Homo sapiens: one gene and its partners. The protein of the gene in region 3 purifies or fractionates together with the protein of the main gene of each other region. This does not show direct contact. Each region holds a gene or a part of one and is shown on either strand. Other genes may lie near its edges.

What was found.
Region 1: the proteins of NTF3 (region 3) and PYGB purify together in Homo sapiens (affinity purification with mass spectrometry; 2 studies listed by BioGRID and IntAct, with this or other methods). This does not show direct contact.
Region 2: the proteins of NTF3 (region 3) and PYGL purify together in Homo sapiens (affinity purification with mass spectrometry; 2 studies listed by BioGRID and IntAct, with this or other methods). This does not show direct contact.

The regions. Positions count from the first base shown.
Region 1 is NC_000020.11:25,242,278-25,252,828, forward strand, and holds the start of PYGB (glycogen phosphorylase, brain form), read left to right. Parts: upstream 1-5,807; 5' UTR 5,808-5,901; coding exon 5,902-6,144; intron 6,145-10,551. UniProt on the Homo sapiens protein: Glycogen phosphorylase that regulates glycogen mobilization. Phosphorylase is an important allosteric enzyme in carbohydrate metabolism. Enzymes from different sources differ in their regulatory mechanisms and in their natural substrates.
Region 2 is NC_000014.9:50,939,919-50,950,413, reverse strand, and holds the start of PYGL (glycogen phosphorylase, liver form), read left to right. Parts: upstream 1-5,930; 5' UTR 5,931-6,010; coding exon 6,011-6,253; intron 6,254-7,823; exon of another isoform or gene 7,824-8,309; intron 8,310-9,208; exon of another isoform or gene 9,209-9,613; intron 9,614-10,495. UniProt on the Homo sapiens protein: Allosteric enzyme that catalyzes the rate-limiting step in glycogen catabolism, the phosphorolytic cleavage of glycogen to produce glucose-1-phosphate, and plays a central role in maintaining cellular and organismal glucose homeostasis.
Region 3 is NC_000012.12:5,425,993-5,436,383, forward strand, and holds the start of NTF3 (neurotrophin-3 isoform 1 preproprotein), read left to right. Parts: upstream 1-6,115; 5' UTR 6,116-6,332; coding exon 6,333-6,350; intron 6,351-7,276; exon of another isoform or gene 7,277-7,340; intron 7,341-10,391. UniProt on the Homo sapiens protein: Seems to promote the survival of visceral and proprioceptive sensory neurons.

The DNA of each region.
Region 1 (10,551 bases), on a different chromosome or scaffold from region 3:
TGACACACCCCAGTGGAGGGAGGGCATCAGTTCCACAGTGTCATTCCAGCTGGTGGGCTCTTTATTCCCTCGAGCTTTATAATTACCAGCCTCTCAAAAATAATGCATTTGTTATTTATCTCTGTTTCCTGAAAGCCTGGGTCTGTGTTCATTTGCAAACACGAAATTGACCAGCACAGATCTGCCAGTGGCGTTGCTGGGATCCCAGAGAGATTTTCCCTCCGCACCTGCGGTCTCAAGGGCCGGCGGTGCTTCTGAGTCACTCATTTCACCAGCGATCAATGAGACACTCTTCAGGTCCTCAAGAAGCTTAAGCCTAGCCGACCAAAAATGTCTGTTTTCCACACCCCGCTTCTAAGTCCCACAGCATCTTCTTCCATTCACAAGACATCTTTCATCTCTTTTTCTGAGGCAGATGACAGGGGACTTGCTACAGACAGAATCTTAAATACCTATTTAAAGAACTTCAGGCTGGGCACAGTGGCTCATGCCTGTAATCCCAACACTTTAGGGAGACCGAGTTGGGTGGATGGCTTGAGCCTATGAGTTCAAGACCAGCCTAGGCAACATAGAGAAAGCTCATCTCTATAATAAATACAAAAATTAGCTGGGCGTGGTGGCATGCACCTGTAGTTCCAACTACTTGGGAGGCTGGGGTGGGAGGATAACCTGAGCCTGGGAGATCGAGGCTGCAGTGAGCCGTGATCACACCATGGCATTCCAGCCTGGGCAACACCATGAAACCCTGTCTCAAAAACAAAAAGATAAAAGAACTTTAAAGGTAATGTATTATCTCCAGCAACACAGAATAGCTCCCTACAACAGTAACGAAACCAGAACCAGCATCCATCCCTTCTTAGTGATTTTTTAAAAATTACCTCCCAAAAGGAGAAGACAGAGACGTAGAGGACAGTCTAAAACAGGGATTCCCTGATGCTGAGGTTAGCAGATGCTCTGGCCTGATCACTGCTCTGATCCAGGCTGCCAGAACAATCCTTTCTCTTAGAAGGGCAAAACTGCTTTTCAGCTTTATATAAAATAAAAGCATAGCCCAATTTCTTTCCATTTTGCCTGTTCTGAAGCCTGGCAGTTTTGTTGCTAAAATGGAAGATGAAGCTGAATCCAACTCTTGGTTATTTACAGAAGGAAAAAAATCTTTTCCCCAGCCCATGTTAGGGTCTCCAGCTAGGGGGCCTCTAATTACACCAGCCAAAGACAATTCAATCAGGCAAGAAAAAAACAAGTTTATTGGCATGTGCATTGCACTTACATGTGGCAGTACCTGGCAATGAATAACCCAAAGTGTGGTCAGGACTTGGGTTCATCTATCATCTTAGGCTGACATAAAGGAAAAGGCCTGGAGCTTCTGGGCAGGGGAGGCATGTAGTGGGAAGGTGTCTTGGTCTATTTGTGCTGCTGTAACAGAATGCCACAGACTGTGTAATTTATAAAGAAAAGTGGCTTATCTGGCTCATGGTTCTGAAGACTGGGAAGTCCAAGAGCATGGCATTGGCATCTGGTGAGGGCCTTTATGCTACATTGTCCCATGGAAGGAGGGTGGAAGTACAAGAGAGGGTGAAAGAGACAGAACAAGAGAGGGTCAAACTCATTTTTATAACAACCCACTCCCACAATGGCATTAATCTATCCTTGAGGGTGGAGGCCTCATGGCCTAATCACCTCTGAACAGTCCTACCTCTTATACAATGGCAATTAAATTTCAACATGAGTTTTGGAGGGTATATTCAAACCTCAGCAGAAGGTGCCCAGGAAAAGTATGGTAAACAAGGGTTGTTTAGGAAGGTTTGTTATGCAGACTTAAGTCAGTACTTTCTTCCACTGATAAGAGTTGTTACAAGATATCCTCTTCCTTGCATGGAAGAGGGAGACGTGGAAATTTCCTTTATAATAAATGTGAATTTTTTTTACAAAATGAAAATGGTTTTTAGAGCCTTTCCTGTGGTCTGCTGGTTCTTAATGGCCTTTAATTCAAAATAATCCACATGCGAAGAGGCATATTTTGGGGTGGTGTATCCCAATGCCCCTCAGATGCCTCTTTTGTGAACTGTCCAAGTGGATGCCCACCTCAGGACCTTTGCATTTGCTATTCCCCCAGATTCATTCATGCCTTTTTTTTTTTTTAGATGGAGTCTTGCCCTGTCGCCCAGACTGCAATCTCGGCTCACTGCAACCTCCACCTCCGGGTTCAAGCGATTCTCATACCTCAGACTCCCAAGTGCTGGGATTACAGGCATGCGCCACCACGCCCAGCTAACTTTTGTATTTTTGGTAGAGACGGGGTTTCATCATGTTGGCCAGGCCGGTCTTGAACTCGTGACTTCAAGTGATCCACCCACCCTGGCCTCCCAAAGTGCTGAGATTACAGGTGTGAGCCACTGCACCTGGTCCATTCTTTCATTTTTTTTTTTTAGTCTCAGCTGAGATATCACCTCCTGTAACTAACAGCTCAACCTGCTTTTCTTTACAACACTTAAAACTATCTAAAAATTATTTATTTGAAAATGATGGCCAGGTGCGGTGGCTTACGCCTGTAATCCCAGCACTTTGGGGGGCTGAGGCGGGCGGATCACCTGAGGTCAGGAGTTAAAGACCAGCCCAGAAACATGGTGAAATCCTGTCTCCACTAAAAATACAAAAATTAGCTGGGCATGGTAGTGAGTGCCTATAATCCCAGCTACATGGGAGGCTGAGGCAGGAGAATTGCTTGAACCCAGGAGGCGGAGGTTGCAGTGAGCGGAGATTGCACCACTGCACTCCAGCCTGGGTGACAGAGCAAGACTCCATCTCAAAAACATTAATAATAAATAAATAAATAAATTACCTGAAAATGGCTGAGATAATTAATACTGGGACTCATTTAGCCACTTCAGCAATATTAGCGGCCAGAGGAGGTGAGGAGACATGATGGTGAGAGGGCTCCTTCCTGCGTCAACCATGCGCATTATGAAGAGTCACATCATGAAGATTCAGTATTGGACTAAGTGCTGCAGGAGAGGGGAAGGACCATGGCAGCTCCCAGGAAGAGGAAATGACATCTGGGTAAGATAACTGTTAAAGAAAAAAAATAATCAATAGCATTTGTTAAAGCATGGTACCAGACTTTATTCACAACCATCATGATAGGTACAGGGACCACTGCAACGGGATCTTGCAGCAGGGGAGAGAGATTGGGCTCAACTCCGAAAACAGCATGGGCAAGTGGGCATTTATAGCCAAGGACTGGGGGAGGGGTCAGTGGATGGACAGTTACTAAGAGGACACTTCAGGGGTCCAGGTGATTGTGTCTAAACCACCTCATAGGATTCCTGTTGAAGGCAGGCCAGGGTGATTGGACAGCATGGGGGATGGTGGAGCATGGGGAGCCTGATCAGATGTCACCAAGGGGGATCAGACATCAGGGGCAGGGAATCCTGCTAAATTGACAAAGCAGGGATTGCTAAAACAGATGTCACAGGGAAGTGTATGATGGCCCTACAAGGCTCAGAAGCCTGACTAGAGTTTGGTCAAAGAATTTTTGTCAGGATCATGGAAAATTTAATAAAGTGTAGCTATGAAAGAAAGGACTTAAAATTTATTTAACCAGAGTAACAAAGAATTAAAAGTCAATCCAGTAAGAGAATATATAGGCCTTAAATCAGCATCCATTAGTGAAGTCTGTGGCCTCTAGTTTTTCTTACTAAAACTTACTCCACTTACAAAAGAAATATTGTGGAAAAAACAGGAAATACAAAATGTATGGAGAAAATAAGATAACCCCCCTGATAATTCTTCCATTCAGAAATAACCAGTGTTTAGGTTTGGATATACACCTGTGTTTCTAACACAGTAGTCCCTAGCCACATGTGGTTATTTAATTTAAATTTAAATTGACTAAATGAAAGTAATATTCAAATCATTACTGTCATTTCTGCATTACATCCTTATTTTTGTGTTTCATTTATCAGTATTGTGTCATCAATCACACCTTCCTAGCTAGCTATTAAAACAGTCATTCCTTTTAGCAGCACAATGGTTTATGATATTAACTTTGAGCACAGATACATTTTTCTGGGCTTGTGCAGTGGAGCAGGGCTTGGCTGGGGTGAACCTTGGCTGTTTCCCTTATTAGCTGTGTGGGCTTAGGGAAGAGTTAACTTCTCTGTGGCTCACCTTCTCCATTGTCAAGCGGGGGTAATAGCAGGCTATTTGCAGGGATCAGGAGTTAATACGTGTACACTGCAAGTAATGATCAATAAGTGTCAGCGCCTCCATTCTTTGCCAGGTGTGCACCACAGCTGGGGGATTAAACTTTACCACACCACAGCAGATAACATATTTGCATAACTTGCTTTTTGTCTTCTTAAGCTTTCCTTGAACTCAATTCCCCAGAGTGGTAGAAGTGGTCATAGGGCACTATCATTTTTATGACTTCTGAATTGCCAGATCACCCTCAGAGAGATTGCATCAGTGTTCGGAGCTTGCAGCCAAGCTCGACCCCACAGCCCTGCCATCTGTGCCCGAAGTTCGATCTTGTTGGCTCCAGAATCCCTAGGACATAGTGCAGGAGTGAATCCCGAGCTGGAGCTGGGTGGGCTGTGGGGTCATTCCAGATTGATTAACCTCCGACCTCTGAAGTCTGCAGCTGGAAGGGGCTCCAGGTAAGAAGATAACTTTGAAGCATCACACCAGGAAACCTACTGCACCTGGACTTTCATGACATTTCCTGCGGGCAATTTTTACCTCCACGAAATTCAGTAACCTTTGCAGCCCCTTCAGCCCAAGACCACCAGGAGCAAACCTGTGGTCCACAAAATCGGGTGTACTGACCCACTGCAATGAGGGAGCGCCTCCCAAGAACGAAGGGAAAGGCAGAGTTTGAAGGGGTTGAGGGAAGGCAGAGTTTAGGTGACCTTTACATGAAGCAGGGTTCCCACAGGCTGAGGCCAGCAGGACTGTGTTCCGCGGGGCCAAGTGTGGGAAGCTGTGTGCAGACGCCCCCTATCTGGAGCTGCAGCCTGGATTGGGATGACAGAGGCTAAGTCTCGGTTAGTGGCTGAGCTCCCCGGCCAGACGGGCATGTTTCCTTCTCCCTGCTGTAATCTCAAAGCGGACAGCGTCTGCCAGGTGGTTTCGGGAACAGGGTTTCTCCGAGGGCTAGGGGGCTGCGGTCCCTCCGAGGCGGGGTCGTGGTGGCATTTGGCTGTGGCTGCCTCGCGCCCTCGGGAACGGGCGTCTCCAGCTCGCTGGCAGCTGGTTTTCTCCACGTCTGTCATCGGCCTGGAGTGGCAAGCAAATAGCTGGTATTTTCAGAGCCGCCCTGCCCCGGACAGAGAAGACCGGGCCCAGCAGGCGTTGGTGGATGCCTTTCAAGCTGTAATCAGTTTCCCCGAACGTGTACCAGGTCTCGGCCACAGCCCGAGCCCAGCGCGCTCCCGCGGGGCACCTGGTGACCCGGTGCAGGGCGGGAGGGCCGGTCCCAGGAACCCGAGGGCCGGAGGGCAGGGCCCCCTTCCCGCACCGTCCCCGGGCTGGCAGGAGCGGCCACGACGGCACGCTCCGAGGCCCCGGGTCCCTTGCCCCCTCCAGTCGCTCCCACTTTCTGCCGGGCTTGCCCAACGAGGGGGCAAACACCACGCTCAGGTGGCGTGGACAGGTCGCTGCCGCCTCGGACTACACCAGAGATCTCAGCTATGAGCCTGGACGCCCGCCCCGCCCTCCCGAGGCCCCGCCCCGCCCCCCGAGGCCCCGCCCCGGCGCGGCGCGCAGGCGCGGTCCATCCCGCCCGCAGAGCCGCAGTGCCGGGCGCCAGAGCAGCGGCGCCAGAGCAGCTGCACCATCCCGGCGTTCGCGTGTGCCGCCGCTTTCCTCCTCCATCTCTTTTCCTCCGCCTCCGCCGGCGCGATGGCGAAGCCGCTGACGGACAGCGAGAAGCGGAAGCAGATCAGCGTGCGCGGCCTGGCGGGGCTAGGCGACGTGGCCGAGGTGCGGAAGAGCTTCAACCGGCACTTGCACTTCACGCTGGTCAAGGACCGCAATGTGGCCACGCCCCGCGACTACTTCTTCGCGCTGGCGCACACGGTGCGCGACCACCTCGTGGGCCGCTGGATCCGCACGCAGCAGCACTACTACGAGCGCGACCCCAAGGTGAGGCGCTGCCCCGCCCTGTGCGCCCGTGCCCGCTGAGAGGGCGCCGGTCCCGGAGCCGCGCCAGCGGGGGTCTCTGCGGGGCGGCCCGTCGGGCGTTACCTGCGCCCCTAGCCGGCCGGCGGCCAGGCACAGCCGACTGGGGAGTCGCCTGGAAGCCGCAGTCGGCGGGGCCCGGGCGTCCCCTGCGCAGGGCCGCGGCCACGGGTCCGCCCCACTGGGAGCCCGCGCCTGGCGGGGTCCGCCGTCCCCCGCAGATGATGCTGAGCCCGGGAGCCTGGCGGACGTTCCCGGTCTCTTTCTGGCCGTGCGCTTCCGCGCTGGCTGCAGAGCCGGTGCTCCCCGCCCCTGCCTCCAGCCACTCTTTGTTTTCCTGCAGCAGCCTGTGGGAGAAAATGGGACTGGAACCAGGCCTGGGCAGCCTTGTGGGTTGGAATGGGGTGAGCTCGGTAATCTGCAGGGAATTGTGAGACTTTTTTTTGTGTACGCTGCTTAGAAGAAAATCACTGAAGATGCCTGCTTCACGCAGGGAGGGGTACGAAGCTCAGAGATGGAGATGGAGCCCTCGAAGAAGGCTCTGTCTTAGAGGTTCCCACACCTCCCTTGGAGAAATTTGCTTGGGTTGAAGTTGACAGAGATCATCTTACTAATTGTTACTTTTTATATCTTGCAAAAATTTGTTTGAGTAGTGAAACAAAGTCACTGATTGTCCCCGTTACTCTTAACCATGTTTACTATGGGCCTGTGTTCTTGCTGTGTTTTTGGTATTCCTAAATATACATACACATTTTTAAAAAGTATAATGCACATACAGTTTTTTAGATTTTCTGTTTCATTCGTAAACATTTGTAACTTTTTCACTGATAAACAGCTTTGCAGGTCAATGGATAGGATGGTAGTTTTCAGTTTGATAGGTACATGGTAGTCTTGCACAGCCCCCTGTTGCCAGTTTTTTGTTGTTGTCGTTTGCTTTTAAACTCTTGACCATGGAGAATTGTCTTTCTACTACACTAACGTAGAGGGAGAACTGGTGAGGAAAAGACACACTTCCAGACCTGAAGCCACTTGGCAAAGATTTTACTTGCAGTGTACATCTAGGCAGTGAGCACTTGCTTTATGGATGGTATTTTAGAATATTTTTGTAGGGCATTAAGATATGTTTAATACGGTAATTGCTAAGAGATTGACTGCTTTTCCAAACTTATTCTGGGACATTCTTTTTTCTAAAATGGAGATGGTAAAAGGGACAGATTTGTTAGAATACCAACTGGGGCTCTTCATATTTGGTATGCAAAACATAGAAGTGGCAACGAATGGCCAAAACAGGTTATAACAAGGGCTTGGGATGACTTTGCCAGGAAAAGCAGCCAAGAAGCAGTGGCTCCCCCAGAATTCCCTGCTGTTGGGAGAGTTCTGATGCACAGCACCATTTTTTTTTTTTTTTTAATTCTGAGTCTTGCCCTGTAGCGTGAAGCTAGAGTGCAGTGGCGCGATCTCGGCTCAGTGCAACCTCCGCCTCCCGGGTTCAAGCAATTCTCCTGCCTTAGCCTCCCAAGTAGCTGGGATTACAGGCGCCTACCACCACGCCCGGCTAATTTTTTGTATCTTTAGTAGAGACGGGGTTTCACCATGTTGGCCAGGCTGGTCTCAAACTCCTGACCTCGTGATCCGCCCGCCTCGGCCTCCCAAAGTGCAGGAGTTACAGGCGTGAGCCAACGCACCCGACCCGCAACATCATTTTTATTGTCTAAGTGGCGGATGGCAAGGACATAGCTCTGCCTTCACATTCAAGGGCATTTCCTTGGAGCTGGACCAGGACTCAGCTCTACACCTTAGGGTGCCCATTGGAGTATTTATGTATAATCACATCCTGGAGAGGCCAGCGATGGGCTCAGGGATTACGGAAATGACCTTCATGAACAAGATAGTCCCTGCAACAAAACAGGTTTTTTGATCCTCCGTGAGATCTCTTTTGATTGTCTACGTGTGGTGGCTCTGGGTGGAAACCTTTCTCTTAAACCGCACAGTCTGTAAGTCGTAAAGTTGTAAACTTTTAGATCTCACAGTGTGTAAATAAGCTGTGTGCCTATTCTGAATAGGAAGGACATGGAAAATTGGGATTTAACTGCTTCTTTCGCTAATTCATGATGAAAATAAGCTTGCAATCCTTTCTTTGGAAAAGTTACATGCTTGCTGGTGATGGACCAGCAACCAGTCCCACCAGAGCCAATGAGAGGAGGTGTGCTCCCAAGAAAATAACTGCTGTGCCTCCCCCTCAGCCAGAAATGACCTCAGACATTCACCGGCACACTGCAGACTGTGGTAATGTGACACTCTAGAGCTCCTAAATAGAACGCTTTTATTGTTATTTTTGTCTTTTTTTAAATTATGCAAGTCCTGAAGGAAAAATTATTACTGGAGGAAAAATTAGAAAATATAGATAAGCCAGAAGGAAAAAAATTAACTGTAATCCTGTAACCCACTTCTATCGCCCACTTTGTGCTGTAAATATTTTGTGTTCTACATTGTTTTTTCCGTATTGGCAGAAACTTGTTTTTAATACATAAAATAACATTATACTGAACCTATTGTTTCATAACTCTTAGCACTTTATTTGTGGTACATAGCGAAAGAGTAGAAGTTGGGGTGTTCAGAGGAAGATTTGTCAAGCTTTGCCATGCTTGGCAAATCAGCACGTCAAAACATCTGGCTAACATGGAGAGCTTTGTGCTTGGCAAGAGGTGGCGGTTGGTCATGAAGACATTTAATGGATTCTCTGAAGTGGTGGCAAGGTGGCAAGGAGAGTCCAACCTGAAGCTGCAGAGCCTGGGATTGCGCTGCATGGAGAAGAAAGGGTGTGCGTGATTCCACGCTCCTTTTCATCCTGGCCTTTCCATTCGGTCTGTGCAACTGTGGGCTTGGGCGGATTTCTTTGCCATTATTGGCCTCAGTTTTCTCATCTTTAAAATGAGGGGAATCAAGCTGGTGATGTTTCCGAAGTCTGTTGCCATTCTGAAATGTTAGAGTTAAAATGTTTCTATTTCATATTGAATTGACATTCCATCTCTATCCAGAGAGAATTTGAGGATGCTTATGCTAGATACAGCACAAAAGGTTCACATTAGAAGGCCTCAGAGTGAGGGTTGGGGTGGGACAGTGAGGGTCAGGACACAAAACACAGACCAGGATCCTGGCAGTGAAAGCAGCCCATGCCCAGTTATGAGAGTCACGGGATCCCTTCTATAACATCCTGAAAGGACAGTTGCACGGTTTATTCTGTGGGCCTTTGTGAAGCTGTGTTGTCGATGTGCTGAGCCACTGACCTGCAGCACCCCTGCAGTGGATGTAACAATCAGTTTTTGAGACTCTTCCCATAAGCTCCTGGCATGACTACAACACAGATTAAGGAAAAGCAGCTCTACCTTGGGGCCCACACTGCTGTCCTAAATATTCCTAATGAGATAAACACAATGAAATACGATTAATCTTTTGGTTTGGCTGGACCCAGGAGTTAAAGAAGATGATCTAGAGAAGTGTTTTGCAGACCCTTCTGCTCTGTGATCCCCACTTCTGGGATTTGTTTTAATTAGTCAGTTGTGGTACCAGCCTCCGGAATCCTAACACTCCCAATTTTTCTGATGTATTTCCACTTTTATGTGTGAAGTTGAGCTTGCATCTCCTGGGCAGGCTTCCCTGACAGCAGATCGCTCAAAGTCATTTTCTCTGACCAGTAGCTGATGGTGGGTGCTGTTTTGTGTTGCTGACAGCTAGCCACTTGGAAGGTAGGCCTCAGCTGTCATTTTAGCAGATGGAGAAGCCTACAGTGTGTGCCTTCATTTTCTGCAGAAGACAGCCTGGCCTCTGCCCTTGCAGGCTGTGGTGGCTGGTTTTATGTGTCAACTTGGCTGTTGTGCCTAGATAGTAACGTGGATGTCCCTCTGGGGGGGTCGGGGGGTGGTGTTTCCCACACTGACTGAGCATCTTACAATTCAGTTCCGTTCTGATGCTGTCTACCTAGATGTAGCCTCGGATCCCACAGGCTAAAGGCTCAGTCCCACAAGACTTCTCCACCCCAGATGTCAGTTGCACATCAGGACCTCCCTTCTGACCTCTGACCGACAGCCTCCTCAGGTTTGATGATTTGCCAGAATGGCTCATGAAACTCAGGGAAACACTTCACTTGCGTTTACCAATTACTTACAAGGAATACAACCCAGGAACAGCCAGATAGAAGATATGCAGAGGGCAGGTCTGAGGGAGGGTGCAGGGGCTTCCATTCCCTCTGCAGGTGCCACTGTCCCAGCACCTCCAGGATTCACTGAACTGGAAGGAAGCTCTTCCATCCCCTTCAGTTGGGGATTTTATGGAGGCCGCAGTTACCTAGTGTGATTATTGGCCATTGGTGAT
Region 2 (10,495 bases), on a different chromosome or scaffold from region 3:
ATAAACATACATGTACATGTGTCTTTATAGCAGCATGATTTATAGTCCTTTGGGTATATACCCAGTAATGGGATGGCTGGGTCAAATGGTATTTGTAGTTCTAGATCCCTGAGGAATCGCCACACTGACTTCCACAATGGTTGAACTAGTTTACAGTCCCACCAACAGTGTAAAAATGTTCCTATTTCTCCACATCCTCTCCAGCACCTGTTGTTTCCTGACTTTGTAATGATTGCCATTCTAACTGGTGTGAAATGGTATCTCATTGTGGTTTTGATTTGCATTTCTCTGATGGCCAGTGATGGTGAGCATTTATTCATGTCTTCTTTTGAGAAGTGTCTGTTCATGTCCTTTGCCCACTTTTTGATGGGGTTGTTTGTTTTTTTCTTGTAAATTTGTTTGAGTTCATTGTAGATTCTGGATATTAGCCCTTTGTCAGATGAGTAGGTTGCGAAAATGTTCTCCCATTTTGTAGGCTGCCTGTTCACTCTGATGGTAGTTTCTTTTGCTGTGCAGAAGCTCTTTAGTTTAATTAGATCCCATTTGTCAATTTTGGCTTTTGTTGCCATTGCTTTTGGTGTTTTAGACATGAAGTCCTTGCCCATGCCTGTGTCCTGAATGGTAATGCCTAGGTTTTCTTCTAGGGTTTTTATGGTTTTAGGTCTAACGTTTAAGTCTTTAATCCATCTTGAATTGATTTTTGTACAAGGTGTAAGGAAGAGATCCAGTTTCAGCTTTCTACATATGGCTAGCCAGTTTTCCCAGCACCATTTATTAAATAGGGAATCCTTTCCCCATTGCTTGTTTTTCTCAGGTTTGTCAAAGATCAGATAGTTGTAGATATGCGGCGTTATTTCTGAGGGCTCTGTTCTGTTCCATTGATCTATATCTCTGTTTTGGTACCAGTACCATGCTGTTTTGGTTACTGTAGCCTTGTAGTATAGTTTGAAGTCAGGTAGTGTGATGCCTCCAGCTTTGTTCTTTTGGCTCAGAATTGACTCGCTCTGTCACCCAGGCTGGGAGTGCAGTGTGGCGATCTCAGCTCACTGCAAGCTCCGCCTCCTGGGTTCACGCCATTCTCCTGCCTCAGCCTCCCAAGTAGCTAGGACTACAGGCACCCGCCATCACGCTTGGCTAATTGTTTTTGTATTTTTTAGTAGAGACGGGGTTTCACCATGTTAGCCAGGATGGTCTCGATCTCCTGACCTCGTGATCCACCCACCTCGGCCTCCCAAAGTGCTGGGATTACAGGTGTGAGCCACCGCACCTGGCCCTCAGTCATCTTTCTAAATATTTGAAACAGCGGAGCCTGGATAACAACCTTGGTTAACAGATTCATACATTAAATATGCTGAGTGCAGTGTACTCAAATTCCCTCATTGAGCATAAAGCTCAGCCCATGGTTTACACCACCCCTTTCCAGAGTGTTAGTGACCTGTCTGTGGGGCCACTGTGGACCTCTGGCATTTCCCTAGATTGCAGAACTGATTAGAAGATGGTCAAAAACCAATAAACAGTACAAAACAGGCCGGGCGCGGTGGCTCACGCCTATAATCCCAGTACTTTGGGAGGCCGAGACGGGTGAATTACCTGAGGTCAGGAGTCTGAGACCAGCCTGACCAGCATGGTGAAACCCCCCTCTCTACTAAAAATACAAAATCTAGCCAGGCATGGTGGCGCACGTCTGTAATCCCAGCTATTCAAGAGGGTGGGGCAGGAGAATCACTTGAACCTGGGAGGCAAAAGTTGCACTGAGCCAAGATGGCGCCATTGCACTCCAGCCTGGGTGACAAGAGCGAGATTCCGCCTCAAAAAAAAACAAACAAAACAAAACAAGTGAGTAGGGTAATAGGTTAGCTGAGATGCAGTCAGAATTCAGGTTTACTTAACAGATCACAAATCCTGTTTCAGGGGAGGAGAAACAACATTAAGGGATTTGAAAACCTCTTCCATCACTTACTGGTGAGGTGATCTTGAGCAAGCTACTCACCTTCTCTAAGCCTCGATTTCCTCATCTGTGAAATGGAAAGAAAAACAGAACTTGTCCCACAGAGCTGATGAGAAGATTAAATGAGTAATGCACATTATGGGCCTTGCCAGAGTCCTTGGAAAATGCTAGTTGCCGTTTTGATAATCTGAAAGTGGTATGCCACCACAATAGGCCCTGCTTTGAAACATAGTGGGTATTAATCTGTATTTGTTTATCTCATATCTTTCTGTGGTGGTCACTAGAAAGGACCTCATAGATGCCCCAAGCTGCAGGAAGCATAACCGACCCAGGGCTCCAGATAGCCCTGCAGAGGCCATGCCTCCGGGAGGATGATCCCACCAATGACCGAGCAGAGTACCGTGGACTCCTGACAGCAGATGCCCTCCAGAACTGCCCAGCAGCACTGCTGGATCTTCCTGGGACTACAGGGCTGTCTGAGATATGCCCTTCTACCCTTCCCTCTCTCTCCCCTTCACTCTAGGTCACACTGGCATCACAGTCTGATGCTCTCTCTGGCTAGCACTCCCCGTTTTTCCCTCCCACAAGCATTTACCCCAGTAAAAAATCTTAACATGTTTAATCCTGTTTTAGCTTCTGCTTCTCTGAAGACCCGAACTAACACACTACTTTCTCATGTTTTTTTGTATTTCCAACAGTGGGAAACTTACACTTGTCCTATGAGTTCTGGACTGTTTGTTCAGCTACTTACAAACGCCATTTCGTTACAGCAGCCACGGGGAAGCAGTGGATGAGAAGCAGGAATAATATAGGCCATTGTGAGTAAGGCTGCTATAAACATGTGAGCCACTGAAATCTGATACTTTTTCAGGGATCCATAGTTTCTGGTTCTTTCTGGTCAAGAGAGGCTAAAGGAAAGGTTTTTAAAGATATTAATTTTCTTAGTCAAGTAACTTAACCTCTCAAGGCCTCAGTGTCCTAGACTAGCACAGAACAAGCAGATGAAACAAAGTTTATATCAGAATGTCAACTGAAAAAGTATCATTTACCATAAATGGAAGATAATTGTATTAAATTCTAGTTAGATGCTAAAACTTCAAGAACTTTTAGAGTCTGTACCTGCATTCTGTTAAAAATATAGATTAAAAAATGCTAACATGTTAACACAAAGGACTTTCCAGAAAGACTTAAAGAAAAGTGAAAGGGGAATAACTGTCTTGCAATGTAATTCATTGTCGTTTAAGACTGGGTCTATGGAACACCCTAAATCACCTGGTTCCATCACGTTCTTTTTAACATGGAGATGGATAGTTTTTCCCCATACTCTATATATTGAGCATTCTATAGTTCATGATTTTTCTGCATAGAGAATTGTTCAAGCCGGGGGTGCAGGCTCACCGACTGGATAGTGAATCAAGAAAATAGTGTGTTCATTAGTTCATCATTACCCTGAGTTTCCAACAAGAATTTAGTACAGGAAAGTAGACAGCGGAGCTGGGAGCCATCTATTTGAAACTGTCTTAAGCAAAACTAAGAAACCGAGTAAGCTTGCTTTTGGTGTCTTTCATCCCTTCTTGTGTGCCCCCTAATTATTCACTCCCCAATGCCCAGACATTATGATGCCTTCTCCTGCTCAGAGACCTTTCTGGGAGGAAGACCTACTCAGACCTGGTATTCCCTCATCCTAGGCTCTACCCTATTTTTCATCCAGCTGTTAAAGCTGAGTGACTAATTTCACACTTATGTACGAATGACCCATAACTGGCTTAATGCTGTGACCATCTTGGGGGTATTCAAAGCTGATAAACACTTTTTTAAGTTATATAATAATCAAAGAAGCTTATCTTTCTGCTTTATTTCAAATTTCACCCCACAGGCCTTACTTATTTTTAAGATCAATGATTTTGATGGGCCCCCCCTTCCCACTCTTAATTCAGGGTATTTCTGGCCCCATCCGGATCCAAACTCTAATGCTCATCTCTTCCATACTGTCCTTTGCAGGTCATCGGTATTGCAAGAGTTGCATAAGGCCCAATTCAGTCTCTGCCCCAAAAGCTCAAGTCCAAACTTCAGAATCTGGGAGGACAAGGATTCAGGAAATTTTGTCAGAACTATGAGCTTTGAACTTTCACTTTTATGGTGAGGGTCACATTTGGTCTGAATCAATTAATCCATTACCCGCCCCCCCCCCCCCCCCCACCACCACCATGTGTGAATTCAAAATAATCAACTTGGGTTTATTATAAAAAACAAAATATATTAATATAAGTATACTAAGATTTTTCTAGAAAACTTGGCCGGGCGCGGTGGCTCACGCCTGTAATCCCAGCACTTTGGGAGACCGAGGAGGGCGGATCACAAGGTCAGGAGATCGAGACCATCCTGGCTAACACGGTGAAACCCCATCTGTACTAAAAATACAAAAAATTAGCCGGGCGTGGTGGCGGGCGCCTGTAGTCCCAGCTACTCGGGAGGCTGAGGCGGGAGAATGGCGTGAACCCGGGAGGCGGAGCTTGCAGTGAGCCCAGATCGCGCCACTGCACTCTGCCTGGGTAACAGAGTGAGACCCTGTCTCAAAAAACAACAAACAAATAAACTTAGAAGAATATATGTGACTATTGGCCGGGCGCGGTGGCTCACGCCTGTAATCCCAGCCCTTTGGGAGGCCGAGGCGGGCAGATCACGAGGTCAGGAGATAGAGACCATCCTGGCTAACATGGTGAAACCCTGTCTCTACTAAAAATAAAAAAATAAAAAATAAAAAATGCGAGGTGGCGGGCGCCTGTAGTCCCAGCTATTCAGGAGGCTGAAGCAGGAGAATGGCGTGAACCCGGGAGGCGGAGCTTGCAGTGAGCCGAGATCGCGCCACTGCACTCCAGCCTGGGCAACAGAGTGAGACTCCGTCTCAAAAAAAAAAAAAAAAGAAGAAGAAGAAAGAAAAAGAAAAGAAAAAGGAAAAAGAAAACTTAATTCTGGCAATGGACTGTTTCTAAAATAATATATTAATACTACTTAATGAGGAAGAAAAAACCTCTGACATCCTAAAATGCCAAGTGTTTGCCTTTACCAAGGTTTAAGCACACATAAACACGCATATTCAAATACCACCCAAAGTGGAGGTGCAAAGATCAGCCTGTACCGCACAGTAACACAGACTGGGTTGTTTTTTGTAAAGAAGGCAACTAGTCCAGTGAGTAATCCCTTCATTTTCCACACACATACCCTTCTGTTTTCTCCCTCTCCTCCCCCCACACCCTCCACTGCAGTTAAAACGTAATTCGAAGAAGCCTAAGGTAAAAGCCCCTGCCGCATAATGACCCTAGAGCTTCACCTCACCTACTCTGATTCTTAGTAACCTACCTCTAAGGATGAGAGACAGGGTGCTACGAGCGGGGCGAACTTTGGTCCAGGAGTTAAGAAACCTGAACCCTGGAGTCCTCAAAAAAAATGAATGAAAATAACAGAGGCGCCCTGAGGATCCAAGCTGGGGCGGTGCCAAGGGCTGGCAAGTGAGGTTGGGACAACAGAAGTCAAACGTGCCGTCCTTCCAGATCCCGGCGCTTATGGCGGAAGCCACTCCAGGTGAGAAATCCTAACAGTCATAATGGCATAACAAATAAACATCGGCAAAACAGCAGTCTGCCAACGACGTGCTTCCCTACACAGACGTCCTCCTGTCTCCACACTCTAGAGGGGAGAGGCGGAACAAATGCTGCCTCCGCAGATTTTGGAAATCCGGAAGGGAGCCTCCGAGCCCAGGTCCCGGGCTGGCAGGGGTCTCGCCGGCGCTTGGACCTCGTCTCCCACCCCCGAGCCCACTGCGGCCCCAGAGCCTCGGGAGGGGCCGGGCACTTCCTCTGCCCTCCGGCCTGGGGCAGGGGCCGGGACGCGGTGGGAGTGCAGCGGGGACGGCACCGCCCGAGGGGGCGGGCCCCAAACTTTCGTGCGCGTTGAAAGCTGCTGGCGCGGCGGGGCGGACTCCACCCCTGCCCGGCAGCCCAGCGCCTCCGGCCGCACTTCCAGCTCTCTGCGCAGCCCGCCGCGCAGCCCGCCGCCCCAGCCATGGCGAAGCCCCTGACGGACCAGGAGAAGCGGCGGCAGATCAGCATCCGCGGCATCGTGGGCGTGGAGAACGTGGCAGAGCTGAAGAAGAGTTTCAACCGGCACCTGCACTTCACGCTGGTCAAGGACCGCAACGTGGCCACCACCCGCGACTACTACTTCGCGCTGGCGCACACGGTGCGCGACCACCTGGTGGGGCGCTGGATCCGCACGCAGCAGCACTACTACGACAAGTGCCCCAAGGTAACCGGGGGCGGGACGGCGGGCCGGGGTCCAGCCCGGAGTCGGAGTCTCCGGCCGCGGCCGGGCGGGACGAGGTGGAGAACCCCTCAGAGTGGTCCCTTGCACCCGGTCCTTGCCCCGAAGTCCAGAGGAGACGTGTCTAGGCTGTGGGCGGGCAGCCTGGGGGACAGATTAGGCCTCCCAACAGACGCCGAACTCATGTCTCCGAGGTGCCACCCGCCAGTGTCCCGCCCAAACCACTGTGCCGTCCGCCCCTGGAAACCGCCAGGTGGGCAAAAGCCCAGGCCCCTCTCGCCTGTCCACTTCACAAACTTTTTTGGAACTTTGACTCTCAGCATTTAATCAAGAGGTGACGGGGGCCTCTTGTCCTGTATGCCGGACACTATTCTCTGCCCTGGACACTCAGCCCTAAACAAAAGGGACAAAAATCTTGCCTTGCTGGAGCTTGGTATTTTGGGAGGGGAGACAAACGCCGAGCTGGGAAAAGGTCGTAAGTCTCAGGCCTCTGGGAGTGGCTAAGTGTGGTGCAGAGGAGGGGCAGGGTCCCGCTCCAAGCGTAGAGCGCCGCCCACCCATTCTCCTGAGTGGGTGTAGCTCCTGGAATTCCGTGAGTCTTTCGCAAAGGCGGCCCAGGGCCAGGCAATGCCCTGGACTCGTCCTCCCCGAAGACACACACTCCCCCGACCCTTAGCCCTTCCACACCCGAGGCCTGCCCCCAGAGCTGCTGAGGAAGGCTGGTCAGGGACCACCTCCATCCACGGCGTGGGGGCGGGAGCAGAGACCTCCTTAGGGTGATTTTGGACCTACAGAGGGACAATATCTCTGCCTGACAGTTTGCGAAGAGGGCGAGAGGCAGTGGGGAAGGACTGGGGAGGACATGGCAGGGAGAGGGATTGTGTGCAGGCTGGAGTGAGGGCGGGTGTGAGTCTGTATTGGGAGAGGAAACTGGAGAAGCCAGGTAGAGACATATTGGAAAGAATAAAAGATTGGGATACATCCCAGGGGCAGTGGGAAATATATATAAACATTTATTAGAACTTTTTAATTATGTAAAGGTGTGAAGAAAAAAAAATGGTCTATAATCCCAGTGCCCAAGAAACCCCATAGGAATTTTTAAGAAAGGAAATGAATGTAAATTCTCATAGTAAGAAATTGCAACTGTAACAGTTTTCAAATGGAAAGTAACTCTTCTTCACCCCAAAGACCTAGGCCTCCACCAAGGTAGCAACTGCTAAAATGTATCCTTAAAAATTTAAATGCACCTTAGAAAACACTTTATGTATACATATATTTACTGTTTTGTTGTTTTGTTTTGTTTTGTTTTGTTTTGTTTTGTTTGAGACAGAGTCTCACTCTCGCCCAGGCTGAATGAAGTGCAGCGGCGCCATCTTGGCTCACTGCATCCTTCGCCTCCAGGGTTGAAGCGATTCTCCTGCCTCAGACTCTCGAGTAGCTGGGACTACAGGCTCCTACCACTACACCTGGCTAAGTTTGTATTTTTAGTAGAGACAAGGTTTCACCATGTTGGCCAGGCTGCTCTCAAACTCCTGGCCTCAAATGATCCTCCTTCCTTGGCCTCCCAAAGTGCTGGGATTACAGGTGTGAGCCACCACACTCGGCCACTATCTTTTAAAAATTTATTTACACAAAGGGAATGCTACTAAGTACACCATACTGCGCCTCTCATTAAAAATTATTTTTAACAATTTTAAGCGGAAGGGTGGGACACTGAGCATATATTAGAAACACACACTCACGCCTCTGTAGCATTTAGCATCATAGAGCACCAGAGAATCTTGTATGTTTTTCCTTCAGTGGCTTATGCAGTGCTTTATGGTTTTCCTGGTTCTCCGGCCAGTTTCTTCACTGGGCTCTCCTTTTCTACGTGAGTGCAGATATAAGCCAGGAATTCCGACGTGTGTAAATTCTGATAGCGATACACTGGGGATACAACAATGAACATGTTTCATTCCACACGTGTTCATCAAATATCTACTCCATCACAGTCGTCTGTCTAAACAGGATGGTTCCTGCCCTCATAAAGTAGAGCAAGTAGGTGTGTCCAAGCTCCTCTCCCACCTCCCTTGCTCTCCAATAACTGTGCAGATGAATCCCAAATATGGATCCCTAGTCTGAATTCCTTTTCTAACTCTATGCGTACATTTCTGAGTGTTTAGTGAACATATCTAGATATCTTCCTATTTCCTCAAACTCAGTACGTTAAAAACTCAAACCATTATTTCTCCCAATCCTGCCCCATCTTCCCGTGTTTTGTTTTGTTTTGTGACAGAGTCTCACTCTGTCACCCATGTTGGAGTGCAATGATGCAATCTCGGCTCACTGCAACCTCTGCCTCTCGGGTTCAAGTGATTCTCCTGCCTTAGCCTCCTGAGTAGCTGGGATTACAGGTGCATGCCACCATGCCCAGCTACTTTTTGTATTTTTAGTAGCGACAGGATTCCACCATTTGGACAGGCTGGTCTCGAACTCCTGACCTGGTGATCCACCCACCTCGGCCTCCCAAAGTGCTGGGATTACAGGCATGAGCCACCACGACTGGCCTCTGTGTTTTTTGTTTTCATGCCATTGTCATCTTGACAATCCAGACGCAAACTTTAGTCTCACTTTTTGCCGTTCAACTGTTTGCCAATTTCTGTTGATTTCTATAGGTTCCCTTGAATGACGTGCTCTCCTCCATTATCTCTTCCTGCCTTGGTGAGGCTCTAGCTACCCATTTGTTGCAGCTGACTTCACGTGGTTATTTTGCTTTCCAGAAGTGGTAAAACCGGCAGCCTGAGGCTGAATAAGGATAGCAGACATACTTTGTTGGCCAAGACATTTTTCAGGAATTTAATTTTTAGCGCCTGTGGTCAGGACTTGCACACTCCATTTCTTAGCCCAGTACTCTTCTTTGTTTTATGTGACCTCAATTACACATTTATTTTCTCTGCCTAGCTCCTGAAGGCATTTGAGTATATGATCCCGTCTCATTCTGTGCATTGTGGTCTGCTCAAGCTTCCTAAAGCAACGCATCTTGCCCCTGCTCAATTATCATTGGCTCCTCTTGCCTGCCATAGAACTTAAGCAAGTATTCGAAAGCACTTCTCAGTCCAGGTGGGCCTGTTCTTCCCTTGTTATCTTCCATTACCCTCTGTACCCACCTTGCTCTCCCAACAAACCAATCCCCACTCTGGGCCCCCGATTCACTTGCAGTGTCCTTCCTACCACATTTCTATGCTCAACTCTTGCCTGTCCTGCAAGTCTCAGGTTTATTGACAGGTGTTCCAGAGGTCTTCCCGGAAGTACCCAGGCCCTCTGACTAATGCTGGGGATAAAAATAAAACATACAATTTAAAAATATTTGTTATATCTTCTTTATTTTATTTTACAAGCCTTTTGAAAATATCCACTTTTTACATAAAATACTAGTAATCATAGTACATGCATGTAATTTATAAAGTATATTGGAGATGCTCATATATTTTACTATCAGTCATATGTAACAAATATTTAGAGACCAGTAAGTAAGAGTATGGCCAAGATCTATTTTTTGAAGTCTTATATATTCCCAAATATAAGGAGAGATTACCTCTAAGAAGTTATTTGTGAGAAAACAGGGAATCACCTTACGTTCCTGTCCTTATAAAGTCTGTCATGCAAGGAAGTATTTTCTCATTTACTTTATTCTGAGCAACCACATATCTCTCAAGAGAGACTTTGAAATATTTTTAAGAAGACTTAAGTTCGTGCTAATGTGGAATCATTAAAAAGGAGGCAAATTTAATACAGATGTAGTCATTATTCCTGGGGGTATAACCTCACAATTGCAAGTGTGGAATATATACTATATAAACAAGCTTTTTGTAGATTACTTAAAAGAAAAAGGCAAAACATCATGGTTATAGAGATAATGAAAATACACACATGGAAGGATTTTTTTAAACTGGGTAATACTATGCAAATGGGTATTTGTGGCTTAAGATACTATTACCTGTGACAGCGGTCATCACGTACTAGAGCACCAGCCATTGCCTATGTCTGCCCCAGAGAAGGTACTTTTATCCAATCATTCGAAGGTATCTAATAGCTGGTGAGGGTTCTAGTAACAGCATTATAGACATTCAAACAACTTGGATGAAAACGAAGATGATGTGTTCTGGAAAGCAGTGTTAGGTGGCCCGTTAGGTCATGGATGTTGACCATTTGTTGTGAAATTTAGAACTCAATTGTTCATAAAAGGAA
Region 3 (10,391 bases):
TGCTAATGGGTAGGAGCACGTCAGCCATGGGACTCGCAGGGAAACTTGCCACACTTTGAATATAGGAGTCACCTGGCTGTGTCTTGTAACCAGTTGGAGACTTCACTCACAGATGTCACTCTGGGGCTACTGAAAATAGAAGAAATCAGATAATACAAAATTTCTAACTGTATTCACATTAGTGTGTTCTTTGTTTTCTTATTTATATTCACAGTCATGAAAGAAAATGAGGTTAAGTACCTTTACACATGGTAAAACCAAGAAACTGAAAAGTTTAGTTACTTCCCTGAGCTCACAAAACAGTGACAAGACTCTGGATCTCATTTCCCTATCTCCCTGTCTCTAACCCAGGATAATTCTCTGGATTGCATTGCGTGTCAGAATTTCTCTGTTCCTACAGTGTAAATTTCAGCCTTAAGCTCCACCTACAACTTGCCATTTTCGCCCAAAGCATTCAAGATGTTCTTTTGCATCCAGACCCTCCTCCAAATGAAGAAAGCTGCAGTGAAAATGCCACTGAGTTGAGGGGTTGCAAACCAAACCTCCATTCCCATAATTCAATTCTCAGGCCCCAGCCTTCTGCTAAGGCTAACAGATCCACTCCAAAATTTTAAGAGTCCACAGTGATCAAAAGCATCTGTATATTCTGAAACATGCAAATCAACCCTGTTTTTCACATTCATCTCAACATTTGGTGGAGGGCACAAGAGTCAGCTGGCTGCTGAGTGGACGCAGCTTAGCAGATGAATGGAAGGGTCAAATCCCTCTCAAGATTTGTAGAACTGGATCTGAAATATGAAATGCCAGCATACGTGATGAGAGGGATAGTCTATCGAGTGTTTTATCATCCAAAGATGGAATTAATGGCTATGCCATATCTGTGTCAGACCCCGGCAGTAAAACTTTATGGGTTCTTCCCCGTGAAATATTTTGTTTATGTCACGTGGGTCTCATCGGATGTTTTTTTCTCTTTTCTTCACTTCCCCTCCCCACCCTTTTCCCTGCCCTCTTTGTCTCCTGAGACCTATTCCCTTTGGAAATGCATTAGTTACCTAGGAAACCTTAATGTCATTTTTTTATGAGTGGAGTTTGGTGCAGCATAAAGTTAATTTATAGGGTGGTTAGGAATTCATGTCATGACTGGTGAAATAGGAGACTTTATTATGATTTCTACATCCACCTGTGTGGTAGGAATACATACCTTCCCTCTATCATTACGGGTAATTTCTTGAAACGTAATTATGAATATGTATGCCATGTCACAGAATAAGTTGATTCACCGTTGTTCAATGCAATTCATTATATTGTTCAATGTAAGCCCTAGAACATAATTAGCAATAACAACAAACCAATAATATACCAGGCAATCTGTTAAGAGTTGAAGGATATGGTGGAATTTCCTTTTAAATGATGAGGTGGTTCTGGGTGAAAGGCAGAGAATGAATAAGACGAGATTTTGAAATCCTTCAATTCTGTCTTTCATGCACATTGAGGTCCACGTTGGGAAGCTATATAAATTCTAAATATGTCCACTACTTCATTCTGCTGATTTATTTCTGTATTTGTCCAAAGGGGAAAATATACATCCATAAAATTACATTAATGAAATGTGTAGTGGCATACAAATAATAATACACAGGCCATTCCAGAGCCAAGCTTCTTTCTAAAGATAGCTCATTCCCCCAGTGGTGTGACAGTGTTTCCTGTGTAAGGACTAGCAGATCGGGACTGGCATTCACATTGTGCCAGGCACTGTGTTGAATGTTTTAAATTAATTAGTTCCTTTGGTCCTCATATTACTTCTATGAGATTGGTGTTGTCTTCACCAATTGCAGATGGGTTCTAAGAAGTTAAGAAACCTGTACAAAAGCACATGGCTACTGAGTGGAGAAGGTAGAGGGGAACCTGCTTTTCTCAGGCACCAAAATCTACTCTGGCAGTAAATTCTAGGTCGTGGTCTGTCATTATGTTTTTGTTTTTGTTTTTTGTTATTCTGAGTTTCCTCAGTTATTAAATGCAGAGTGGGGGACATAGGGGCTGATAGAAGTTTATCTCTGATGTCTGTATTCTGTGTAGAGAGATCAATGCTAGTCCTTAGAGCAAAGCTGTGCTTTCTTAAAATGACAGAAATTTGGGGGAAGACCTGGTCTTGTTAAATAAACATAAACAAGCCACTCAGTTTCTGTGGACAAGTGCATGCGAATTGAAAGAAAAGAAGAATGTCTCACAGGTGACTCCAGGTCATCTGAGAGGAATTGCTATATGGCTTGACAGCCTGTAGCTCTTGGTGAATAATGCTGTTGCCAGTATATAGAAACGGGTGGGCAGCCAGGAATCTTTCAAGTGCGGAGGCACAAAGGTAGCATGAAGCCGCCTTTCCTGACCCTTAAGCTCCCAGTCCCTGTGCAAACACCTTTTGCATTCACTTTAATTGTTTGAAAAACGAAGACTTCCAGACTCCATCAGCTCTAGCAGCTGTCTGGGTGGATGGGGGTGGGGATGGAGGGGGTAGGGCGAGACCTCCCCACAGCGCCCTCCAGCAGCAGAAGATGCAACTTGCAAATACTTCAGGATCAGTGAGAAGTGTGGTGTTTATTTTAGTAACCTCAAAAGAGAGAAAAAGAAAAGCAGTGGAAGAGGACAGACATTCAAGGCTAGCTACACGATCATGGGGAAAAAAAACAAGCTTGTCTTTGACACGGAAAGGGTCCTTGGAGGCCATTCGGTCCACTTCTCTCATTTCCTGGGTCAACATGTCACAATGAATTAACCACATACTGCCACTGCACAAGACCCCCTCCCTCACCACACGCTGAGCCCCCACCACCAGCATTCAGTCCACTGAGCTCAAACATAGGGAGATAAGTGCTGTTTTCACAAGATAAAGGCAAAATTCAATCCCACGTTGCCGTTTTGTTTCTGTTCAGTGTTCCAACCACAGAGTGGTGCTATTGCAAAAGATAAGGGTAACCAGAAGGCACGCTCTGGAAATTTGCTTTAGGAGAGAGTTTTAAAGGGGGTTTTCAAAAACAAGATCTGATTCCTGCTCTCAGAAATCACTTCCAGGAGTCAGGGCCTTACTCTCAGATGCAGCAGGGAGAAGAAGAAAGTTCAGCAACCTAAAAATACAGTCGACAGATGGGCAGCCAAAGTCATGGCCACGAAGTCAACTTGGAGAGGAGCACCTACCTAGTGAATCCTAAAAGATCTCATCCTGGATGCTTCCTTAACCAGGCCTATGTACAGGGCACAAGCTCGCAGCCAGCTTACTTTCCAGTCCTGATCTTTGCTTTTGCTATCCATACCAATGGTATTTCTATAGAAAAGAAAAATCTCTATTTAGAAACACGGATTTACTTAGAAGTCACAATATTCTAGTTTAAAAATGGCTCTACATAGTAGAGAATGATCTTTTTATTCTGTCTTCTTAAAAATACACCTTTCTAATTCTTTTTTTCTTCCCACCTTCTTCATTCAGCACCTTGCCACTCCCTTGGAAGCCACAACAGCGAGCTGGGGGGTCAGTCCCTAGTCTTAGAGGGAAGAAATCTTTAGGTCTGAAGTCTAAAGAAAAACAGTAAAGGAAAAGGCAGTTGGCGGTGCTCAAGGTAGACTGTCTGAAAGAGGTCTTCTACTCAGAAAAGGGCTAAGGCTCTCCCTTTGGGAAACCAATCCTTCTGAGAAAAAGTGCATCTTTCACCCTCTGCTCCTGTCTGGGTCTCTCCCTCTTCCTCCCTCCTTCCCTCAGTCCCTCCTCCCCTCTCTCCACAAAGACACAGCACATATTTGGCAAGATTAAGGTGTCACCTCTCATATTACAAGGCCTGTTGATTGCAAGCAAAGACAGACCCACCAGCTTAGGACAAAACCCCTTGGAGTTGGAAATAAGACAAACTCTGGGATCCCCGAAAGTCCCGGCAAAATGACGCGGCCAGCCAGTGCAAGGCATCTGCAGAACAAATCCAAGTCCTAAACGCACTGCTTGCTGCCTTTTCTTCTCCTTCCTTTCTTCTGATTTTTCAAGTTTGTTTGCCCCCCTTCCCCTCCTCCCTCCAGACTGCCAGGGACCTGGGAGCTGCCTGCAGATCAGCCCGCACATGTATTTAACCCCTTCCCTGCTGCAGCAGGAGCCAACCACCTCTTTCCTTGCAATCTTCAGGTTCCCAGAGGACCTGGAGCTTGAGAAAAGAACTCTGCCAGTGGATCTGAAACTGGGGCCTGAATCCCTCCTTTGACCAGGGCGAGAAGCTGGAGGAGGGGGGCAAGTGCGGGAAGTGGGGGAGGGCAGGGAGGCGGGCCAGATGAGAGGGAGAAAAGCAGAACCCGACAGAGCACGCCCAATCCAAACCTTCATGGTGCTGTGTGGCTGGGTGGAGGGAACGACTCGGCAGCCTCTTCTGGCCCTGAGGAAGACGTCGATATTTTGGCACGAGGGGAGCCACTGAAGGACTACCCTACCCTTGCGAGGGACCGCAGGAGGTGACGCCCCTGGGCCTCGGTGGGCGCTTCTGGCGGTTTTCGATGTGGCAACCCCCATCAGCCAGGATAATGATGAGGCAGGTACAATCTATCTAGTACGCAGCCCCCAGACTCCCCCCTCCCTTCCCACCTCCCCATCCAACCCCCCAGCTACTCTCTGCGGCCGGTTGGTCCTGAACTGGTGGGTGCAGTTCCGATGTTTAACCAAATTCTCAAGCAATTTCAAGGTATTTGGATTTTTTGAACCTGGGCCCTAACCGAAACGCGGAACGGCTTGCTTATTAGACACCTCGAACGACAGGGCAGGGAGGAAACGGGATACTCGCTGCCCTTCCCAGTCGCGCGTGAGTCAAAAGGTCCTGGCAGGAGATGATGTGAGGAGCGGCTGAAGTGGCAGGGAGGAAGGGATGAGGGGCTTGGAGCGGAGGTCCACCACGCAAGGACTCGGGAAGCGGGCAAGTGGGCAAAACTCTGCTTCCGGGCTCTCGATTTCTCGTTGATCACTAAGTGGTATTTTTCCCCCTTCTCTCGATGGCAAATGGGCGAAATCAAGATGACTTAACTTGGTAAATTTAGAGAGAACGGCTCGGAGCAAGTGAGGTCTAACGGGCAGCTAAAATTATCTCCAAATAAGAGATTTTGACCCCCTCCCCCTATCCTCTCCTCGAATGTATCCACCGGTGGGGAAGTGAGCGTCATTACTTTCGGGGCGCCACGAACAGGTTTGTTTGTTGCTCGCCTTTCCTGCTTCTCGCGCTGTCCCCGCGTGCAGACTGGTGGGTGCTGGGCGAGTGATTAGCTGCAGGGCCCCATCCTAGTTTGGAAGGAAGGGGTTTAGAAGTTGGAGGATGGGTGAAATGGGAGGCTGCGATCCATCTCCCTCTCCCTTCCACACTCAAGCTCCCGCAAACACGCGCGCGCACACACAGCCCCTCCCTAGTCCCTCGGACCACCCGCCCCCACGCCCCTCTACCTTGACCTCCCTTGACCGCCGACACAGCGTCCTGGGTGCGGGTCCCCGGGAGCGGGGAGTTCGCCGGGGAGCGATTGTCCTTGGGCGTGTTCGTGCTGTGGGGTGGGGGGAGGAGTGGCGGGTGGGCTTGGTAGGGGGTGGGGAGAGATCTGGAGCTGGAAGGGTCTAAGGTTTGGAGGAGGAGTTTACGCCTCAGACCTGATCCTCCTGAGGAAAAAGGCAGGAAAAGGCCCTGATGCCTTGTAAAGAAAATCTTGAAAGAAAAAAGATCAAAAAGAAAAATTTCAAGAAAAAGAACCACTAAGAAAGGCTGAAGACACTAACATGTAACCTGTTACGATACATTTAACGTTTCGTTTTTTCCTGGATCTCTAAAAGGGAACTCAAGGGTGGGGGTTACTGAAGAATACTACAGATTTGGAAGTTTTTGTTGCTGTTGTTGTTTGGTTTGGTTTTGTTTTTCAAGAGGGGCCAGGAGAAATGACCCCTTCCCCGCCACGGGTCCCGAAGTGAGGGCGGGGGGGGGGCTCTGGGGCGCGGGCGCGCGCGGCGCGGCGCGGGCCGGCGGGGGAGGGCGGCGCGGCGCGGAAGGGGTTAAGGCGCTGAGCGCGGAGCCATCTGGCCGGGTTGGCTGGTTATAACCGCGCAGATTCTGTTCACGGGACTCAGAGTTGAAGCTCCTCTCCCTTCCGAACAGCTCCGCGCACCGCCCCGCGACGCAGCCCGGCGCAACTACTTTCTTCTCTCTCCTTTCTTTCTTCCTCTCCTTTTTCCCCTGCTGGGTAGTGGCTGCGGCGGGGTGGGGGAGACTTTGAATGACCGAGCTCGCGTCCACCTTTCTCTTCATGTCGACGTCCCTGGAAACGGCCACACGGATGCCATGGTTACTTTTGCCACGGTAAGGGGAGGCGGCGGGCACCTTGGGTGGGCAGGTTTGGGGATGGGGGTCCACGTGGGGAGGGATTTTCCAGTGGACTGGTGCGGGGGGCCCCAGATCCGCATCCCGCCCCACCCCCATCGCGCCGCGCTCACTCACTTTCCCGGGCTTGTGTCTTCCCCAAAGTTTGCGCTGGGATCTGCTCAGGCCGAAGCGCAACCGCAGCCACCCCGCTACACACACACACACACACACACACACACACACACACACACACACACACACAGACACGGACACCCTTCTCCACCTCCTCCCCTCTTGTCCCTCGGCTGCCCAAGAAGCTTCCCTCAATCTGGGAAAGTGATCAGGTTTAAGGGACCTGGATTGGAAAGGGTGGGGGCAGAAGAGGGGAAATGGGGACGACGAAAGAGCAGGAAAGAGATTCAACAGAATCAACCACCCACCACTCCCAACCGACCCGCCTGCTCCTCCGAGAAAGCTCCTAGCGCATCCTATAACAAAAGGGGGTGGCAGACAGAACTCCGGGCGGGGAGGTGCCGCGGCAGCTCCCCTGCACACGCCCTGCACTCTGCCGGCCGCTGAGCCTGATTCTCAGCTCGCCCCAGCACCACTCTGGCCCGGGCGTGGGCTGGGGGGAGGGGACGCGCAGCTCAGGACCCGGAACCTCGCGTTCCAGTTTTGGGAGTTGGGACTCACTGCCACGCGCCGCGTACCTGCGTTGGAGTTCCCCGAAAGGGTTTTTTCAGAAAAGACCTCGCGCCCCGGGCTCCTCTTGGCCAGCGCCCACCCGGTGGCCACCCCACCCTGGGCCTTTGCGCAGATGTTGGAGCTCCGTACGCAGCCCGCACATCTGGGACCCCTCCGGGGAGCGGCGGGCACCCGGGCCCGGCCATCCCAGGGGATCTCCTTGCGGTATCGTCCAGCCTGTTCTCGGACTTTGAGCGGTGGCGTGGGAGGCCGGGAGACCTGGGCACCCGCGCAGCCAGCCAGGTCGGAGTTTAAAGGTCCCACGACGGACCGAACTGTCCCATTGCCCCAGAGCTTTACTCAGTGGTGGATGCTCCTGATGAAATTTGGGACGCTTGGGAGTTGAAGGTTAGGGACAGGAGGGGCGAGGGCCGAGGGCATGGGATGGGGGAGTAGGATTCTGCTTGTTGCTCTCCGCGGGAGTGGGTGCGCGTCCAGGAGGCGCTGCTTCTTTGCGGGAGTTTGGCTGCTGCGTTCATTCGTCGTCTGCGCTTCAGATGCACGGCACTGAGACCCTTGCGTCCGACGGTGTCGGGGCTGTGGACTAGAAAGGATCCCTTTTGCTGGAATCGAGGCTGGGGTGGGATTGCCGGTGGGGGAAACACCGAAAAGATCGTCTGGCCTCGGCCTCTGGCGGCGGGCGGCAGGTTCTGAGTCCGAATGGAGGTTGCTCCCGGGAGCGCCGGGCTCAGAGCTAGAGAGCTCGGGAGACTGTGCGCCTGTGGACTTGTTTATGTGTGTGAAGAGGCGGGGGCGAGGGCCTGCTGAGAGGGGAGGGGAGCCTGGAAGGGGTGGGTGTTTCTCCTGGAGCCTGATGTTTGTAACTCAGCTGATTATGGAGTGCACTGAGCGACCTGCTTTTTAAATAAAGAGGTGCCCGCTCCTACCCCGCAAAACAGCGAACGAGGAGAACATGGAAGCGCTCTGTCCTAAACGTCAGGATGGGAGAAAGTTGTAACATAGAGGAGACTTTTCCAGAGGTCCTGTTTTCACAACACTCAGAAGTTCTCCAGCGTACTCAGCCTGCCTCCCGCCTGCCCTCAATTCCTTTTTGACATGTCACACAAAGAAAGCTGAAAGGTAGAATGTGGAGGATAAACTCCAACCCCCTCTGCCTTGGGCGCAAACACACAGACTTAGGTATCGTGTTAGGAGGTAAGGGGGTTGGAAAATAATGCAGGCTCCGGTAGACAGTGTTGAAGGGAGATAGAAAGTCTGGGGTATTTCCCCTAGGGAGAGTGTGTGGGATTTTGTGTTGGTGAGGACTGGAGTGTAGCTGGACTTAGAGGGTTTGGTTGTGTGTGAATGGGATATGCTTATCTATGGAGTGAGATTGTGACCATTGAGTGAGTGGTCAGGGAGGGATGGGGATGTTTTTCCAAAGTGTGTGTGTGTGTGTGTGTGTGTGTGTGTGTGTAGGGGAAGGTGGCAAAAGAGCTGGAGTCCTATCCCTCTTTGGTGCCTGGGAGGTGTGTGTTTCTGGGGAGTCTGTCGGATGGGCATCTGTGTGCTTAGCGGGAGACAAGAGCTTGCAGGAACATAGGTGTAGCTAATGCGAAATCTGTGCCTATGAAGGGTGTCAGAGCAGGAGGAGAGGTGCAGCCTGTTGAAGACAGATGGCTTGTGCATGCCTGCACAAACACATGGAGTGGGTGTGGTGTAGGAGGGCGGCTGTGTGTGTGAGGGAAAGGTGGATGCATGTGGAAGGTTGGGCGCCTGAGGATTACCAAAGGGATGTGTGTGGGGGGTGGGGGAAGATTATCTGAGGAGCACGGGGTTTGAACTTCATGAGGGTGCACTGGGAAATTTGGCTGGAATGGCACTGGGGCATGTAGGGGGTAGAAAAGTGTGAGCTCAGATCCTCTTTATGGAAAGACAAAGCATTTGCAGGGAAGGACACCGGGTTGGTGTTGGTGTTTGCCTCCCCCCTCCTTCCTCCCCAGAGAGAAGAGAATTGGAGGAGGCTTAGAATGAGGGATGTACATTTAAGGGGAAAAGTCCTTGTGCATTGGCACTGGGTGGGAACAGGAAGAGATGTGTGCATAAGACTGAAGTAAGTAGAGGAATGCACTATCTGTGCCTGGTGTCAGGGATGCATGTTGTATAATGTTTTGTAATGGGTTTCTTATGTAATAGGAGAATTCACTATCACCAGTTCATATTGATAATCAATTAAAGCTAATGGAGTGCCTACTGGATGCTCAGCCCATTGCTGGGTACTGGGGCATGGCACACTGCCCTGGAAAAATTCCTTCTCCAGGCTCAGTAAAACTGATGCAATTTTGCCAGAAATAGACAGAGCTCGACGCTTGTTGAGGTTTCTTCAAGGTCTATAATTCAGTTTCTAGAGATGTTTATGGATCTTGGGGGCCAAAGGGAAGCTGACTTGAAATATATCTCTGGTTTTGTAAAAAGTGGGGCATAAAGAGAGGGATGATGTAGACTTTTGTGTATTGGGAAGGGAGCTGGACGGTGTTGTTGTTTCTTGTGTGGGGTGTGGGCTGGGAATTGGAGGGTGCTGCACTTCAGGTCAGAATGCAGGTCCAGATCCCTCTAAGGATTGAGTTTCTAAGAGTACACAGAGCCTCCTTCATAGCTGGAATGAGACCTGTTATGTGGAGCTGGAGAATGGTGAAGTCATGATCAAGGAAGAGATGGACTGGGAGTGTTTGTTCATCTTTGATGTTTTCTGGGCTACGAGTGTAAAGCTAACCTGAGTGTGTGTTGGGGGGGTGGGTATGCATGCAGGTGCGTGCACATGCACTTTGGCCTGGAGTAACGTAACTGGGAGAAAACTAGCGAGGTGGATAGGAGGGGTGGATATTCTGGCTCTTGTGAAGGGGGTGCCAGTATGTGTTTTTGCAGGAATTCTGTGTGTCTGGGGAAGGATAAAAATTGTCTTGGATACTCAGATGTGCATCTTTAGCGAAAAAAGGTGTACACAAAAGAAGGGCCGTAGACTTTGGGGAATGAGACAAAGGTGTCGTTGATCGGGTCCATACCCTGAGATGGCTGGTGAGGCAACTGGGTAGGAACAGAGTGAAGGCTGTGCTTTTGTGATGCACACATCTGCCTGTCTGGAGCAGACGATGGGGATCCCCATTTGATTAGGTTCTGACCACCGTTGGGCATATGTTTGGGAGGACTTTATTTGACTCATGACATTTTTGAATTCATGAAGTTACAGCTGTGCCATTTTAAGGGTCTACCTTATTTTTGAGAGGGAAACTCATCTGTGTAAGAGATAGTTTATATAGGGCTTGACTATTGGTCAGAAGATCCGGGGCAGATATT